2 separate regions of the Homo sapiens genome follow, and region 1 is linked to region 2. The links come from fine-mapping of genetic effects on gene expression. A gene starts in region 2. The other region holds a variant in brackets. All regions are shown on one strand. Distances are between the middles of the regions. Region 1 overlaps C6orf89 (chromosome 6 open reading frame 89). Region 2 holds the start of C6orf89 (chromosome 6 open reading frame 89).

The links.
Region 1: its variant is fine-mapped to the expression of C6orf89 in whole blood (TOPMed, PIP 0.92).

The regions. Positions count from the first base shown.
Region 1 is chr6:36,913,813-36,922,146 of GRCh38, forward strand. C6orf89 (chromosome 6 open reading frame 89) reads left to right here. Exons shown (of 9, transcript NM_001286635.2): 5 at 472-623; 6 at 742-881; 7 at 2,633-2,762; 8 at 5,766-5,889. Among named protein-coding and RNA genes, the nearest start is that of C6orf89, 32 kb to the left of the region's middle. The variant T/C (reference allele first, on the strand shown) is at 3,324.
Region 2 is chr6:36,882,365-36,890,698 of GRCh38, forward strand. It overlaps C6orf89 (chromosome 6 open reading frame 89), which reads left to right and starts at 3,588. Exons shown (of 9, transcript NM_001286635.2): 1 at 3,588-3,664. RefSeq lists an enhancer at 3,348-3,427 and a silencer at 3,648-3,827.

The DNA.
Region 1 (8,334 bases), 31 kb after region 2:
CATATATACCTTACCTTTTCAGCGGTCTCCAGTGCTTATCATTGTTTGTTTTTAAAAATTATTATGGGCTGGATGCGGTGGCTTGCGCCTGTAATCCCAGCATTTTGGGAGGCCAAGGTGGGCAGATCATGTGAGCCCAGGAATTCAAGACCAGCCTGGGCAACATGGCAAGACCCCGTTTCAACTAAAAATACAAAAATTAGCCATGTGTGGTGGCATGCGCCTGTAGTTCCAGCTCCTCGGAAGGCTGTAGCAGGAGAATCCCTTGAACCCAGGAGGCAGGGGTTACAGTGAGCTGGACGGCACCACTGCACTCCAGCCTGGGCGACAGAGTGAGACTCTGTCTCAAAATAAATAAATAAATAAAAGTCATTATGATGTCTTTCCTTTCTTGTTTCATTGTTGGAGCTACTGGATGTACCAGCTATGCTCTTTCAGTATCTGTTTTCTCCATATCCCTTCCTCTCTCAGACTTTGACCCCTGGTGGACAAACGACTGTGAGCAGAATGAGTCAGAGCCCATTCCTGCCAACTGCACTGGCTGTGCCCAGAAACACCTGAAGGTGATGCTCCTGGAAGACGCCCCAAGGAAATTTGAGAGGCTCCATCCACTGGTGATCAAGGTGAGCAGAAGCCTGAGTCTCCCGCTGATTGGCTGCTTGCTTAAAGGCTAGGTCAAGCTCTAGGAAATTTCTGACAAGTAACTCTGTGTTGTTTTGTTTTGTTTCCTGCCTTGCCAAGACGGGAAAGCCCCTGTTGGAGGAAGAGATTCAGCATTTTTTGTGCCAGTACCCTGAGGCGACAGAAGGCTTCTCTGAAGGGTTTTTCGCCAAGTGGTGGCGCTGCTTTCCTGAGCGGTGGTTCCCATTTCCTTATCCATGGTGAGTGTGAAAAGGGCCGGGCACAGTGGCTCATGCCTGTGATCCCAGCACTTTGGGAGGCCGAGGCAGGCAGATCACTTGAGCCTAGGAGTTGCAGACCAGCCTGGCCAACATGGCAAAACCCCATCTCTACTAAAAATACAAAAATTAGCCAGGTATGGTGGTGCATGCCTGTAATCCCAGCTACTCTGGAGGCTGAGGCATGAGAATCACTTGAACCTGGGAGGTGGAGGTTGCCATGAGCTGAGATCGCGCCATTGCCCTCCAGCTTGGGTGACAGAGTGAGACTGTGTCTCAAAAAAATGGGGGGGCTATGGGGGCACTTAGCGTGCGAGTAGGAAAGGGGCAGACCAGAAATACCTGCAAAACAGTAATAGCTATCACTGAGCCACTACCACAGGCCCAACACTTTACAAATCCAATGCTGGGATCCCACTGATAAACCAGTGATGAGAGATAAAAGGGATGGATGAAGAGGTGTGTCAGAAGGAGGGGTGCCACCATGGGGGGGACAGCAAGTTTGTCTAATAGAGTCATAATTTATTTCGAAGTATGCATTTAGCATTTTATGTAGAATGGGGCCTCATGCAGGGGGCTGAAGAGAGAGTGCAAATAATAGAAGGAGAATTGCATTTTTTGGCACTTGTTTCTGCCAGGCAGTGTGGCTTGGTGCTTAGTGTCTGTGTCTCACTGGGGACACTGATAATAACTCTGGAAAGTAGGAATGATTGTTGTCATTCTTCAGATCAGACAAGTGGGGATCAGTAGCTAGGCGTGGTGGCTCATGCCTATAATCCCAACACTTTGGGAGTCTGAGGCGGGTTGATCACTTGGGCCCGGGAGTTGGAGACCAGCCCAGGCAACATAGGGAGACCCCATCTCTACAAAAAATATCCAAGCTACTTGGGAGGCTGAGGTGGGAGGATGGCTTGAGCCTGGGAGGTTGAAGCTGCAGTAAGCCATGATCATACCACTGCACTCCAGCCTGGGCGACAAAGTGAGACCCTGTTTCAAAAAAAAAAAAGGTTGGGGGAGGGGGAAAGAAAGAAAGAAAAATGGGAAACAGAGAGATTAAGTAACTTGCCTAAGGTTACCCAGCCAGGATCGAAACCCCAGTTTGTCCTGCTGTTCCTTCCTGTGCCCTGCGGAAGACATGGTTCATTCCTTGTGGTTAAGGTTGCTGTCTAGTAAGAAAAGAAAGCCAGTTTCCATCTTAGAACTGTTTCGAAAGAATTAAAATGACTTTTTCAGGCTTTTTGTTAATTTCTTAATGCTTCTATCTTTCTTTAAATGTGCTGTTTGTTTGCGTGCTAGAGTGCCCAGTTGAACAAGCTGAGCAGGCTTCCCCCTGCGTCTCCCTGTGCCTCAGAAGAAGGGTCATGCTTTTTGTCCCTTCCTCCTTCTCTCTTCTCCCCTTCCCCCGCCTGGCCTGCTGTTACTTCAGTCTTTTCCAAGATAGAATGAATAGATTATTTCTTTCCTTCCAATATATATTGTTTTAGCTGCAATTTAGAAACACTCCACCCACATACTCAAATCATGGCTGTAGAGTTTATGCCTGTGTGTGTACACATTATAGTTCATTGACTCTGTGCAACTATTCTTCAGGGACCTAGTACTTAAGATACTGTACTCATATTTTTCCCTCTTTACCCACCGCCCACAGTTTTCCCACCCTTACTTGGCTCTCTCTTAGTCATGGGCTGGCTTGACCAGTTTAATTACTTTTTTTCTGTTTCATACTTCTACAGGAGGAGACCTCTGAACAGATCACAAATGTTACGTGAGCTTTTTCCTGTTTTCACTCACCTGCCATTTCCAAAAGATGCCTCTTTAAACAAGTGCTCCTTTCTTCACCCAGAACCTGTTGTGGGGAGTAAGGTAGGAAATTTTGAGAGGACTTGGATCTAGAATTTTCTTTATTTGGGACCTGGACTGATGTCATAACCAAGGCCTTCCCTGCATATTGGCTTAGAGGGTTACAGGGTGAATTGAGGGGACACCCACACAGTCTAGTTCTCCCCTCCTGCTGCTAGCCAGGAGACTTGCAGGGGCCCACCTTGTCATGAAGGCAGGTTTCCAGAAAATCTAGTTACCTTGCAAATCTGCCTCCTGCCCTTAACACCTGAGGCAAACTACTTTTCTATATTAAAAGAAGTGAAATCTTAAAATTTGAAGGACTTGAGGGTGCAATTAGTCTGGCTTTCCTACCTTAAATTAGAAAGTAGGCAAGCAGCCATGATCGGTGGTCGCTCACGCCTGTAATCCAGCACTTGGGGAGGCTGAGGCAAGAGGATTGCTTGAGCCTAGGAGTTTCAGACCAGCCTGGGCAATATAGGGAGACCCTATCTCTATTTTTTCAAAAAAAGAAAAGAAAGCTATAAGGTAATAGTATGTGGATGAATAGAATAACTGCTCCATTTTGTGGATAAGGAAACTGAG[T/C]CCCAGAGAGATTAAGTGAGTTGCCCAAGGACACACCCTTTACCCTCTCACCCCCAGGATGGTTTTTGCCAGAAATAAACAATTAAGAGATTTCAGGTAGAGAACTTGAAAGGCAAAAAGTGTGGGAGCCTGGGAAGGATTTGATAGGCAGGCAGCCCAGCTGGGGTAGAAAAGCCCACTCTGCCCCCATCATTTCCCACTTCAGTCTGGGGCCAAGTGCTCAGAGCCAAAGTTACCTCTCTGGGGCCAGTGGACTGGGAGAAGCTGTTCTGCATTTGTGTCTGTTTACTTTTCTCTGAATTGCTCCTTTTGTTGAGTCTCATTCCTAAGGAAGGTTTTTGAGCCTGGATCGGTTTGGGAGAATTAAAAGCATGCATTTTCCTTCATAAAAAAATAAATTTCCCAAACTATGGCCCCCTGCCACCTCTGGACCATGGCTTCCACCTCCTGATACTATCGCTTGGCTCCAAATTTGCTGAATTGTGTTAAAGGAATTTAAAAGCCTATAAAAACAATCATTTTGTCTAGAAGTAAGAAGTTCTGTCTGCCAGCACTGGGGTGGAGATGCTGGGCTCTTGCCTCAGATTTTAAAGAAGTTTATCCTGCTGTCGCCGGCTGGAATTCCAGGCCCTTGTATGATTTCATCTTCATAAATATAATTCTGGGACACGGCTTTATCTTTCTCTTGGTTTTACCACTTGAATACCAAAGTTAATTTCTCCAGCGTGTGCAACACCAAGGAGCCCAGCCAAAGGAGTAAATACAGAGTTACTCAAATGCTTACGAGAGTCATGCTGTGGTTCTCGAGGATGTTTTGGGAAGGGCAGTGGCCAGACAGGCAAAACTCTTGAGAACCCAGTTTCTTAGAGAATCTGTTTCCCCACCCTGGCCCAAGCTCCCCTTTCCCCGCAGCCTTGTTACCCCACCCTGTTGTCCACATCCCTGGGCCCTGGGCCCTGGGCCCTGTTAAAGTCACGTGTCTGTGGGCCCAGTGTCCAAAGGCAGCCTTGGGACAGAATTGGGGAGCTGGTTGTTAAGTGGCACTCGGGGAGAAGGTGAGGGCCTCCAAGGCCCACTTCACCCACTCCACGGTGTGGCCTAGGGCTGGCCTGTGCCACCCTCTTGTCTGTTTCTTCCCATCCTGGGAATGGATGAACATGACCCTGCCCACTTCAGGCCTGTGTGAAGAAGGGATACAGCCACTTGTTTTGGTCCTTCTGAGATTGTTTTGAGGACTACAGATGTTAAGGCTTCTGCCAATATTAGTACCAGTCAACTGAAGGCTAGCTGAAGACACCAGGCTGTCCCTGTCACCACATTAGCCGGTGAAATGGCTCTGGTGTTGCCATGAAAACATTATGGGCAAGGCCTGTGGCAGCAGCAGAGAGAACAGGGTTGGGGACAGGGGAAGATGGGGCCAAAACCCAAGACTCTGGAGGCCCTGAGTGGTGAAGAGAAAACCAAGACATGGCCCAGGGAGTCAGACTTCTGGCTCCCACTTTATATGGGCATATAAAGGGTTTCTCTGAAGGGCAAGAGATAGGAGGAAGAGATGAGAGAAGAGGCCCTAGGGGTTTTCTGTCATCATCAAGGTAAGGAGAAATGTCCCAGCAAGACCCATCTCTCTCTTTATCCCTATTCCTTGCCCTGGTCCCAGCCCCACCCCAGGGTTCACAGCTCCTTCCCTGGCACATAGCAGGTTGCATTTAATGCCTGTTGCTGGCAGTATCATGCCCTCAGAGGGGCAGTAGTTACCTGTGCAGGTGCATATGCTGATTGTCTCCTTAGTTTTCAAAATCAGAGGCCAGTCTTAGTGTCATTAGTTTTTAATCGGTAGCATGGCATATCTGCTCCCCTGGGTCTTGCCAGGCAGTGTAAACTTAAACTTGCTGCTGTACAATTCTTATCAGGGCCCTGGTAGTAAGAAATAACATTCCATGGAAGAGTGCCCAAAGGATATGCTGATTATCTATTTATCTAAAAAGTTTTCATCAAACCAGAATCTCAGAATGTTGTATACTTCAGCCACCATGTGCTGGTTTCTGCTGGAACTACCTTTGTTAAATTGCAATTAGGTATTTTTCTTTGGCTTACTTTGAAGCTGTGGCTAAAAATAGTTGCAAATTACAAAGCTCATGCAGGATCTACTCTGGGGCTCTCGTTGAGGGTATTGCCCACTAAATCACACAGTGCCTCTTTAGGAGAACCCATAGAAGAGATTTTACTCTGGTCTTAGTACCAAGAGATGCCATTCTTAGGAGAAAGTAGTTTGTTTTTGTCTTTTGGACATAATTGCAAATTTTTGTTATTGGTTCTATTTCCTCTTTGCTTATGCTAGGAAACTCAGAGCCATATGTGAAAGCATTTTTATTTACTAAACCCCCTGGTTTTATTTCGTTTTCTTTGCCTTCCTTTTCCTCCCCTCCTCATTCTTTCCTCCAGATGCATAAGATGCCTGACCTATTTATCATTGGCAGCGGTGAGGCCATGTTGCAGCTCATCCCTCCCTTCCAGTGCCGAAGACATTGTCAGTCTGTGGCCATGCCAATAGAGCCAGGGGATATCGGTATGTAGGGCCCCAGGAGGGCAGGGTCAATGGATCTTTTTAGTTTTTAACTCAAAAGCTATTTTAAGAATCACATACTGCCTTCACAAAAGTTTTATTTAGTAGAATCAAAAATAACATTCTCCTGTTAACAGGCTCAATATTTATGCTTAGAAATGAAACAACTTAATGAGAAAACATAGCAGAAAGAAATGGCTTGTACATACAACATATAGAATGCGTGTGTCTATTGATCATAGAAACTTCAAGTTAGGAAGGATTCTGGAAAATATTTAGACCAATCCCTCGTTTTATAGATGAAAAGGTTGAGACCCAGAGAGGAGAGGTGACCACCCCAAGGCCCCACTGTCAGTCGAGCAGAGCGTCAGGTCTTAAGTGCCTGCTTGAACACAGTCAAGCCAGGAGAGGGACAATCAAGGACTACAGGAATATATACCCATTTTGCAAATAAAACAATACCAAGCAGTATATAAGGGCAATGGTCACACAAGGAAATGTTACCTTCTGTGTGGCTGCCACAGCCAAGTCACAGCCTCACATTGATGACTCACCCTTGACCCTGGCTCAGTGTTTGCCCAAATGTGACTTGTCCTGTGCCTTATATCCTAATTAAAAATCTGTTCCAAAGAAACAGGTTTGAATCCACTGCTGTCAGTAGCAATCTGTTTGACAGCCGAGTTTTCTTGGAAGAAGCAAATAAATCAGCGAGTGTCACCATTGACCTCCTTGCTTTTCCTGCCTCACAAAACCTAGGCAAGACCTGGAGTCTCTGGCAGAGCCCAGACTGGTTTTCCAATTGATTTCTTTTAATTTTACCCATTCAGAAGACCCCCAAGCCCCTAGAAACCTTGCATCTCATATGAGGGTAGGAATTGGACTGCAAGCTATGCCAAGTCTTAATTTAGGTTACATAACTTTTATTTCAATTCAGAAATGAAAAATAAAAATAAGGTACAAATCAAGCATTAACTAATAATGGAGCACAGCTGGCCTGGCTCTTGGGAAACTTCCTACAAAAACGAGGATTCTTGTATGGAAATCGTTCTGAATCTTTTTCCTGTAATGGAGTGACTCTTAACACAAGAGATGACTATTGCGAAAATCTCTCTGGCATATTTAGGTTTGGAGCATGTGGTTGTGCTTGAACAAGTTTCTGTTTTATATTTTACAAATGCCTAACAATTCAGACAACTACAGAAACACCTTAGTTATCTGAATTCCAGACTTCCGGCTCCCACGAGCAACCGGAATACCAATTACAGAATTAGGGAAAAATTAAAAAAAAAAAAGTCTGGCAGTGATCAAGAAAGCTTGAGCATCAAATGCTGGTACAGATAGTCCAGATTAGCCTAACATCCGGTGCATGATACCTGCTGTGCTGTGCCTGGCTGGTTTGTTGACTAGAAAGAAAGGACCCCTATAGTTGGCAGTGTCTATAAAAGGCCAGTCACATGACAGAACACAGAGATGGATGGGGACTGAAGAGAAGAAGAAGAGGAGAGCAAGTCTGGGAGAAGAATGGGGGCAGGGAGGGGTGGGGAAGCCAGCGAGCACCTGAAGCAGTGACAGAAATAGACATGATGGCTGTCACTGCCACGGTTAACAATGAGGACAGGAAAGCAGACCCTGACCAAGAAGAATCATTCAGTGTTACAGGACAGATGGCGGTTCCTCTACCTTAGGGACCCTTAAGAATGGCACCATGACATGCAAGTTCTATGATTTTTGACAAAATGTACATTTTCCTGTGGAGATGGAGGGGAGAGGGGTTCCAGATCACCAGAAAACCTTTTGGGGGTCAGGTACAACATCTGCAGTCACTGTACAGGATAGTCATTGCCCATCATGACCAAGTCACCAAGTAAAAGTTGAATTCTACTCAGTGCTCTTCATTTAAAGATGAGCAGGGCCCATAGTACGCTAGAATAAATTTCCCATCAAGAGATTTTTTTTGTTTAAAATTTTATTTTCTTATGGTAAAAACACTTAACATGAGATCTACCCTCTCAACGAATTTTTAAGTGTACAAGACAGCATTGTTAGGGGCTGAGCAGGGTAGCTCACACCTATAATCCCAGCACTTTGGGAGGCCAAGGCAGGAGGATTGCTTGAGCCCAGGAGTTCAAGACCAGTCTGGGCAAGATGGTAGGACCTTGTATCTACCCAAAATTACAAAATTAGCCAGGCGTGGTGGCACACGCCTGTAGTTCCAGCTACTCAGGAAGCTGAGTTGGGAGGATCTCTTGAGCCCAGGAATTTGAGGCTGCAGTGAGCTATGACTGCACCGCTGCACTCCAGCCTGGGCAATGAAGCGAGACCCTGTCTCTAAAATCACTGAATTAAAAATTTTTAAAGCCATGCGCGATGGCTCACGCCTGTAATCCCAGCACTTGGGGAGGTCAAGGCGGGCAGATCACCTGAGGTCAGGAGTTCGAGACCAGCCTG
Region 2 (8,334 bases):
TCAAATTACCTATGATAACCCATTAGCTATCAGTGCTATGCACCTAAATTGGAGAAACAACTGGTATTCAAGAGGACGTAAGTCCCGTGTTAAGCATGGACTCATGAAGAACCAGGATGGCCACCTTGTCCTTCTTGAGTCCTTAAAGCTTTTGTTATTAAACGTTCTGGAAAAGATAAAATAATCCAAATTTAATATATTGATGTGGTGACTTATAAATTGCAGAAATAATTTAAATCCAATGTTTGGTTCCATATTCCTGGAAAGACGATCAAAGCTTCAGATGCGTTTGGCTACCTGATGGGCCATTTAAACATTTATAAAGAGATTTCATTCAATTGTCATTTTCTTTTTTTTTTTTTCTTTTTTCTTTTTTTTTTTTTTGAGACGGAGTCTCGCTCTGTCGCCCAGGCGGGACTGCGGACTGCAGTGGCGCAATCTCGGCTCACTGCAAGCTCCGCTTCCCGGGTTCACGCCATTCTCCTGCCTCAGCCTCCCGAGTAGCTGGGACTACAGGCGCCCGCCACCGCGCCTGGCTAATTTTTTTTGTATTTTTAGTAGAGACGGGGTTTCACCTTGTTAGCCAGGATGGTCTCGATCTCCTGACCTCATGATCCACCCGCCTCGGCCTCCCAAAGTGCTGGGATTACAGGCGTGAGCCACCGCGCCCGGCCTGAATTGTCATTTTCAATGCATGTTTTCTGGTTGTATAAAAGCTTTCCCATGCAATAGGGCTGATGTTATAACAGTAGATTATAGTGTATTTTCACCAGACAAAGAAAACTTTTTATGATTCACTGAGGACAATCCCTTCACAATCTAGAACCTGCAGATTGGATCGTCTGAGAACACCAGAGAAAGAGAAAGACTGTCCTTGCCATCCACACTACAGCAAAACTTTGGAGCTTTAAACCTTGGGTTCATAATCTCACAGCTGAGAAGGGTCCCTCCACACTCCTGGAACTGTACATCCATTGGAACCCTTAAGGTAAAACTAACCAGAAAAGTTTCTCCCCAGAAGATGGCATCCTTGATTAGAATAGCTTTTCCCAAGATCATAGATCAAAACTTCTACTATCACAAGACTCTTATCTTTGAATATTTTTTCCTTGTTTATGCCTCTATGAACAATAGAAATTAAAAGTGGGTCTATTATATGCACTTATAGGGTATACTTTTATTTGTGAAGGATTTTGCAGCCAGCCTTAAACATGAATAACCTTATATTTCAATAGATAAAAGATGAAGGCCCAATGTAGGTAACAAACTTTAGTGGTACATACATTGCCTCATAATCAGTCAAAACTCCTCTTAACCCACATCATGGATTAAAGAGAACATTGACAAGAGGCCTTCACTCTTCTAGAAAGACATCCATTTGTTAGGTCCTTTTTCCATGGTTTAGAATAAAAGAGGCAATAATTTGAAATGTCTCCCTCATAATAGGCTCTACAGCAAATTCTACTTTAAAGGCTATCGTTACACAACAGACTTTAAATTCTCCTTTGAAAATTATACTAAGTAATAGAATTGGCTAAACAGAAAAGTACCTGTGCAGCTGTTGACACCTGTGGCCTATGGAGAAATACAGCAAATGTAAATTATAAACAATTCTGGCCGGGCGTGATGGCTGACACCCGTAACCTCAGCACTTTGGGAGGCAGAGGTAGGCGGATCCCCTGAGGTCAGGAGTTTGAGAGCAGCCTGGCCAACATGGCAAAACCCTGTCTCTACTAAAAATATGAAAATTAGCCTGGCGTGGTGGCAGGTGCCTGTAATCTCAGCTACTCAATAGGCTGAGGCGGGAGAGTCACTTGAACCTAGGAGGTGGAGGTTGTAGTGAGCTGAGATCGCCGCTGCATTCCAGCCTTGGTGACAGAGCAAGACTCCCTCTCACAAAATAAATACAATAAAAATAAATATCCAGTTGTAGGGGATTAGTGAAAAGACCACTTAGTCAAGCAAGGAGACTCTTCATCTAACTCATTCTTCAATCTATTTAATTTTAGGTGGTTTGGCTTATGGGGACCCTGGGTAAGGAGCATACTCCAAACTCTTGCTATTATCCGCCCGATAATGATAATAATAGTCTCCCTGGTGCACTGTATTCTCTCAAAGATTTTAAATGCTTGCATGCAGCCATCTCTACAACGTCAAATGATCTCTTTTCAACTGGAATAACAAAAACTGAAAGAAATGTGTGACCATGAAGGCACCGTAACCTATGAATGACATGCTGAGACCAGAAACCCAAAATGATGTAACTGAGAGTGGCGCTAAGGCCCTAAGTTCTGGTCACGCTGTCACCTAAGTAAGAACCTGGCCAAAAGTGAGGAATTTTTTTTTAAACAAAATCATGGGAGGCCATTATTTTGGACTGAGCTCATGCACTAGGCACCAACAAACCAAACCAAACTAAAATGGAGTCACTCATGCTAAATGTGACATAATCAAACCAAGGCTTTAAAAAAACACAAAATGCTAGAACAGACCAGGTTTTTTCTCCTGTAAACAGATGTTTCAGAATAAGGAGGTATCCTCTACTCAGCCCTTATTCTCTTCCTGCAAAACCCACTGTTCTACTGTTTCCTAGTGAGTTTCAAAACCATACAGGTACACTTATGACAGCGATAATAACATCAATGACCAAGGTTTTGGTCAATCTCTCAAAATTGAGAAAATGACCAAAACGGGGGAATTGTTAAGGCAAACTAAATATGGCCTGAGAAGGACTCTGTCCTTCTATATTTGAGTCCTTGTGGATGAACTGTAACATAGCTTAATAGTCAAACAAAATTGAAAACCTAACTTAATAGTATACACCTGTAACAATAACTGAGTGGTGGCCAATCCCAGCGGCCATACTTCAACCACTCACAGCCTGCTGAATGTTCAATCTGCGTTCAAATCAGGCAAACACCGAGCTGTAACCAACCTCACTGTTTCTGTACCTTACTTCCGATTCCTGTGCCTCACTTTGCCTTTTTTATCTATAAATTTGTTCTGACCATGAGGCACCCTGGGAGTCTGTGAATCTGCTGTGATTCTGGGGGTTGCCTGATTCGTGAATCTTCCATTGCTCAATTAAACTCCTTTATACTTAATTCGGCTTAAGTTTTTCTTTTATCAACAGAGTAAGCTCTCACTAATGAGTGGGCTGAGTGAAAACTGGAGGGATTTGTTCGTCTTTCTCAAGAGTAGTAGCTTCCAGAAGGAAGGGGCTGCTCTTCATTTACATTTCCCTTCCACTCCCATCCCTTAATGCCTAACATGCTGCCTGGCACATAGTAGGGGACTCAGTAAATGCTTGTTCTATGGATCAGTTCAGCTATGAAGTCTGTGTGAGCCAGTCCAGGTAAATTAGGAAGACAAGGATTTAGGACTGGGGCGAAAAGAGCCAGAACGGAAGAAGGACGCCAGGGGGAGCAAGAACCTACACTCTCCAGATATCGCGAGAGGTCCCGCGCTCGCCACGACACTGAGTGTTCTGTTTTGGGCGGAAGCGCTGGACGAGAGGAGGAATTACTCTAGGGTACAAGGCCTCGCCCAGGAGTGGGGGGTTGCTTCCGGGTCGCGCTCCCGGAAACAGGAAGTTGCCCATCCTCCTCGCCCGGCGGCAGCTGTCCCCGAGGCGGGAGGAGCCCGAGGGGCGCGAGCCCCGCATGTGAGTGACTGGGGCCCGAGGCTGGGTGGGGGGAGGCCGCCCTGTGACAGCCTCGCCGCGCCCGTCTCTGACATCCTCGCGCAGCCGCTTCTCGCCGCTGCTACCACCCTCTATCCCAGCGCGGATCCCTTTTCTCAGTCTCTCCAGTTTTGTAGACTGACAGCATCCCCTGGCAGCTCCCCCGGGGTCGACTCCCTTAAGACATCTGTCACTTTCTTTGACTCCGCCGGGGAGAGCAAAACGAGGTGGACCTTGCTTGAACTTGGTTCTCAGGCATCACAGCAGTGTCCATAACTTGAGCGTTGCTAATGAAGTCCAGATTTCTGCCCTTTTGACGGAATTTTTAAGAAATTAAGAGTAGATTCCCCACCCCCTTCTGAAAGATCTTTTTCTAATAATCGTTAGGGGGCAATAATTTTTTTTCTTTAAATGTGTACTTGGTATGTGATAAACCTGGCATCTTGGATTTCAGAAAGAAATATGACTTGGTTTCTTGACACAAGTAAAATAGTTGTTTGTAATCACCTCTTAGTAGAAGGAAATTTGCCTGCGTCGTGTTTTGTAGTATTTTAAGACTGTTAACCGTGCAGGCCACACTTTCTAGTCTCAGAGCCCTCATAGCCTTTGTATTCGCAAATATGTTTCTTTTAAAGTATTTAGTCATAAATCACTTTATAATAGAGACTACTTCCAGATACTTAGTATTCTGACTTTTCTGATGGCTCATTTGGTAGTTCCTGTGGTGGGATCTTCTATAGACGTCTCTCCCTTAATAAATTCGTTCATTTGAATTTGGGTTGTCAAAATTTCCCTCTAGGGAATAACATGCCTTTAAAATAATAACTAATAAATTCAATTCTGCTACATTGAAGTTTTGACTAAAGGTTCATGTAGCCCAACTTGCATACCAGAAAGAGGTCCTGTTTCTGTCAGACCTTTTCTGCCTTGGACTGAGGCATTTTTCAAGACCTGCTTTGAATACCTGTTCCTCCACAGCTACTCCACACACCAGAAACAATGTCCAAATGCTAGATTCCTAACCTGCTAACCTTAAACCCTCATCACATTGTTGCTACCTCTGCGTTTTTTTGTTTTTTTTTTTTTGAGACGGAGTCTCACACTGTCGCCCAGGCTGGAGTGCAGTGGCGTGATCTCTGCTCACTGCAAGCTCCGCCTCCCCGGTTCACACCATTCTCCTGCCTCAGGCTCCCGACCTCTGCATTTTTAAAAATGAATAAAATAATAAAACATAAAATGAATAAACCATGAGCCACGAGTTACATTCAATTAGTTCGGAATGATAATTTTAGGTCCTTTCTATAAATTTGTTCAACATTGATCTGATTCCACATCTGAGGTGAATTCCCACGTCTGTTCTTAGTTTTTTGTGTTTTCTCCATTTATCTCTGCTTTCAAGAAACACTATTTAGGGTGGGAGGTAGACAGGAAAATAGATGTAATGCCAAGCCCTAGAGGTGCATAGGACAAAAACTGAGGTCAGAGTCTTAAAGAGTTCACTTATTGGACAAAGCACTGGAGACTAGGCTTTTTAGGCAGAGGAAATTGTGTATGCAAAAGCAAAAAGATGTGAAATAGTATGACAGTGTAGAATGTGAAGAAGGATTGATGGGAAATGAAACTGAACAGGTAGGCAGTGACCAGATCATAAAGGGCCATGGTAAGTAATTTGGACTTTATCTTTTAAAAAAGACAGGAATCTCATTCCATCACCCAGGTTGGAGTACAGTGGTGCTATTACGGTTCACTGCAGCCTCGAACTCCTGGGCTCAAGCTACCCCTCACCTCTGCTTCCCAAGTAGCTGGGACTACAGGCAGGCACCACCACACTCGGCCAATTTTTATTTTTATTTTTTTTGTAGATACAGGGTCTTGCTATGTTACCCAGGCTGGTCTTGGAAGTCCTGGGCTCAAGCAGTCCTCCCACCTCAGCCTCCCAGTGTTGGGATTACAGGCATGAACCACCATGCTTGACTTAGGACTTTATCTTAAAATGATTGTTATTAGGTATTTAATTTGTCTGGCTATTGGAACAAATGTGTTACATCATTTTATAATTCTCTGAAATAAAACATTGTGGGGTAGAAATAATTATCCCCATTTTATACATGAAAACTGAGGCTTAGAGAGGATGAGTAGTGTCTCATGGCCACACAGTAAGTGGTAAAATCTAGAATTTGCATCCAGCTTTTTCCAACTCCAGTATCTGTGTTCTTAGTCACCATGCTAAACTGCTCCTGCAGAGGATGGGGAGTCTTGGAAGGTGCTTAGCATGAGCCAATTTGTGTTTCAAAAAAATAAGTGGCCGAGTGCAGCGGCTCACGCTTGTAATCCTAGCACTTTGGGAGGCTAAGGTGGGTGGATCACTTGAGGTCAGGAGTTCAAGACCAGCCTGGCCAACATGGTGAAACCCATTTTTTACCAGAAAAATACAAAAATTAGCTGAGTGTGGTGGCGCGTGCCTGTACTCCCAGCTACTCCAGAGGCTGAGGCACGAGAATCTCTTGAAGCCAGGAGACAGAGGTTGCAGTGAGCTGAGATCATGTCACTGCACTCCAGCCTGAGCGAAGAGTGAGACCCTGTCTCAGAAAATAAAAATAAAAAACTGGACAAGGTAGAGAATGGATTGGGGAAGAGGAGAACTGGAAGTATAGAGATTAACTACATCTTTGTGATGGTCCATAGGAGAGATGTTGAAGACCTTAACTGTGCTGTTAATGTAGAGAGGAAGGGATGAATGTGAGAATTATATAGGAGGCTGAATCAAGAGGACTTAGTGATAGTTTCATTGGTGGGAGTGAGGTAGGAGGAGAATAGTTTTTAAATTTGGAGGATTAGTGTTTCCATTAAGAAAAGAGGTGCAGTGGGAGGAATGAGTTGAAGGGGAAAACAGTAAGTTGGGTTATAGACACATTACATACAGGGAGCTATGGGAAACTTGGATCACCGTGTCTGGTAGGCAGGTAGATAAATGGGTCTTGAACCCTAGAGAGAGTTGTAGACTGGAGAAGAGATTTGGGAATCACCAATAGCTGGTGGTCAAAGTGTTGGAGGGAATAAGAAGGTCAAGGATAACTGGTGGATACCAGCAGAGAACGAGAGAATTATGTTAAGGTTTGAGTACACTTGAGGGAGATAGATAATGGGGTAGCAACAGCAGCTGCTGCAGAGAGGTCAGATAAGGTAATAACTGAAAAAAACGTCCTTCGAACTTGGCGTTTAGAAAGCCATTTGTGGCCTCAGTGAAAGCAATGTCGGTGGAGTGAGGAGGCAGAAATATGATTTCAACAGGTTAATAAATGAATGGAAACCTGAGAAACAAGAAAGTGTGTTACTTTCTCCCCCCAACCCCCAAAGGAGCTTTCCTCTGAAGGGAGGGAGGGAGAGAGTACCAGAAACTTAGAAAGGAACTATTATGGCATTTTTCTGATAGTAGAAACTGGAAAGGGTGAGGATGGAAGCAAGTAGAGGTAAGCTTAAAAATGTGAAGACTTCTTCAAGTATGTCAATGTCCTAAAAGACCAAAAAACAAAAACAAAAAAAAAAAGAAAAACCACACACTGGGGACTTGTTCTGAAGTTAAGTAGATTAAAGAGAGGCATGGCAGCCAAATTCAATGTGTGGTCATTGGTTGGATCCTGGATTTTTAAATAGCTATATGATCTTTTTAAAAAAATTTGATAGTTAAGGAAACTTGACTATAGACTGAATATTAGGTAATATTAAGAGATTACTCATTTTAATGGGTATGGCAATAATGCCAATGGTTGTGTGTAGAATAACGTCGTTATTCTTAGGAGATGCATGTTGAAATATTTAGAAATGATTTTATAATGTGTTGCAAATAACTTTCAAGTAGTTCTGGTAAAAACAGAAAGAAAATATAGCCAAATGTAAACAACTGGTAAATCTAAATGAAGGATATCCAGGTGTTCATTGTACTATTTTTGTACAAAAAGCTTTACACATTTAATGTGTACAGCTTGATGAATTTGGACATAAGTATGCCCTTGTGAAACCATCACCATGATCCATGCCATCAACCTATCCATCACCTTCAAGTTTCCTCCTGCCTTCTTACTTATTATTACTATTAGCAATAAGAACACTTAACATAAGACCTACCTTCTTAGCATATTTTTAAATATACAATACAGTATTGTTAACTCTGGGCACTGTGCTGTATAGTAGGTCTCTAGGAGTTATTCATCTTGTATAACTGAAACTTTGTATTCTTTGCCCAGTACCTCCCTGTTTCCCCCTGCCTGCAGCCTCCTGCAACCACCATTCTGTTCTTTGCTTCTATGAGTTTAGCTATTTTAGATTAATCGCACAAGTGGTATCATGTAGTATTTATCTTTCTGTGTCTGGCTTATTTCACTTAGCATAATGTCCTCCAGGTCCATCCGTATTGTTACAAATAGCAGGATTTCTTTCTTTTTTAAGGCTGAATAATATTCCATTGTATGTATATACTACATTTAAAAAAAAAATTTTATTCTTTTGACACAGAGTCTCAGTCTGTTGCTCAGGCTGGGGTGCCATGATGTGATCTCTGCTCACTGCAACCTCCACCTCCCAGGTTCAAGTGATTCTCATGCCTCAGCCTCCCGAGTAGCTGGGATTATAGGCATGCGTCACCATGCCTGGCT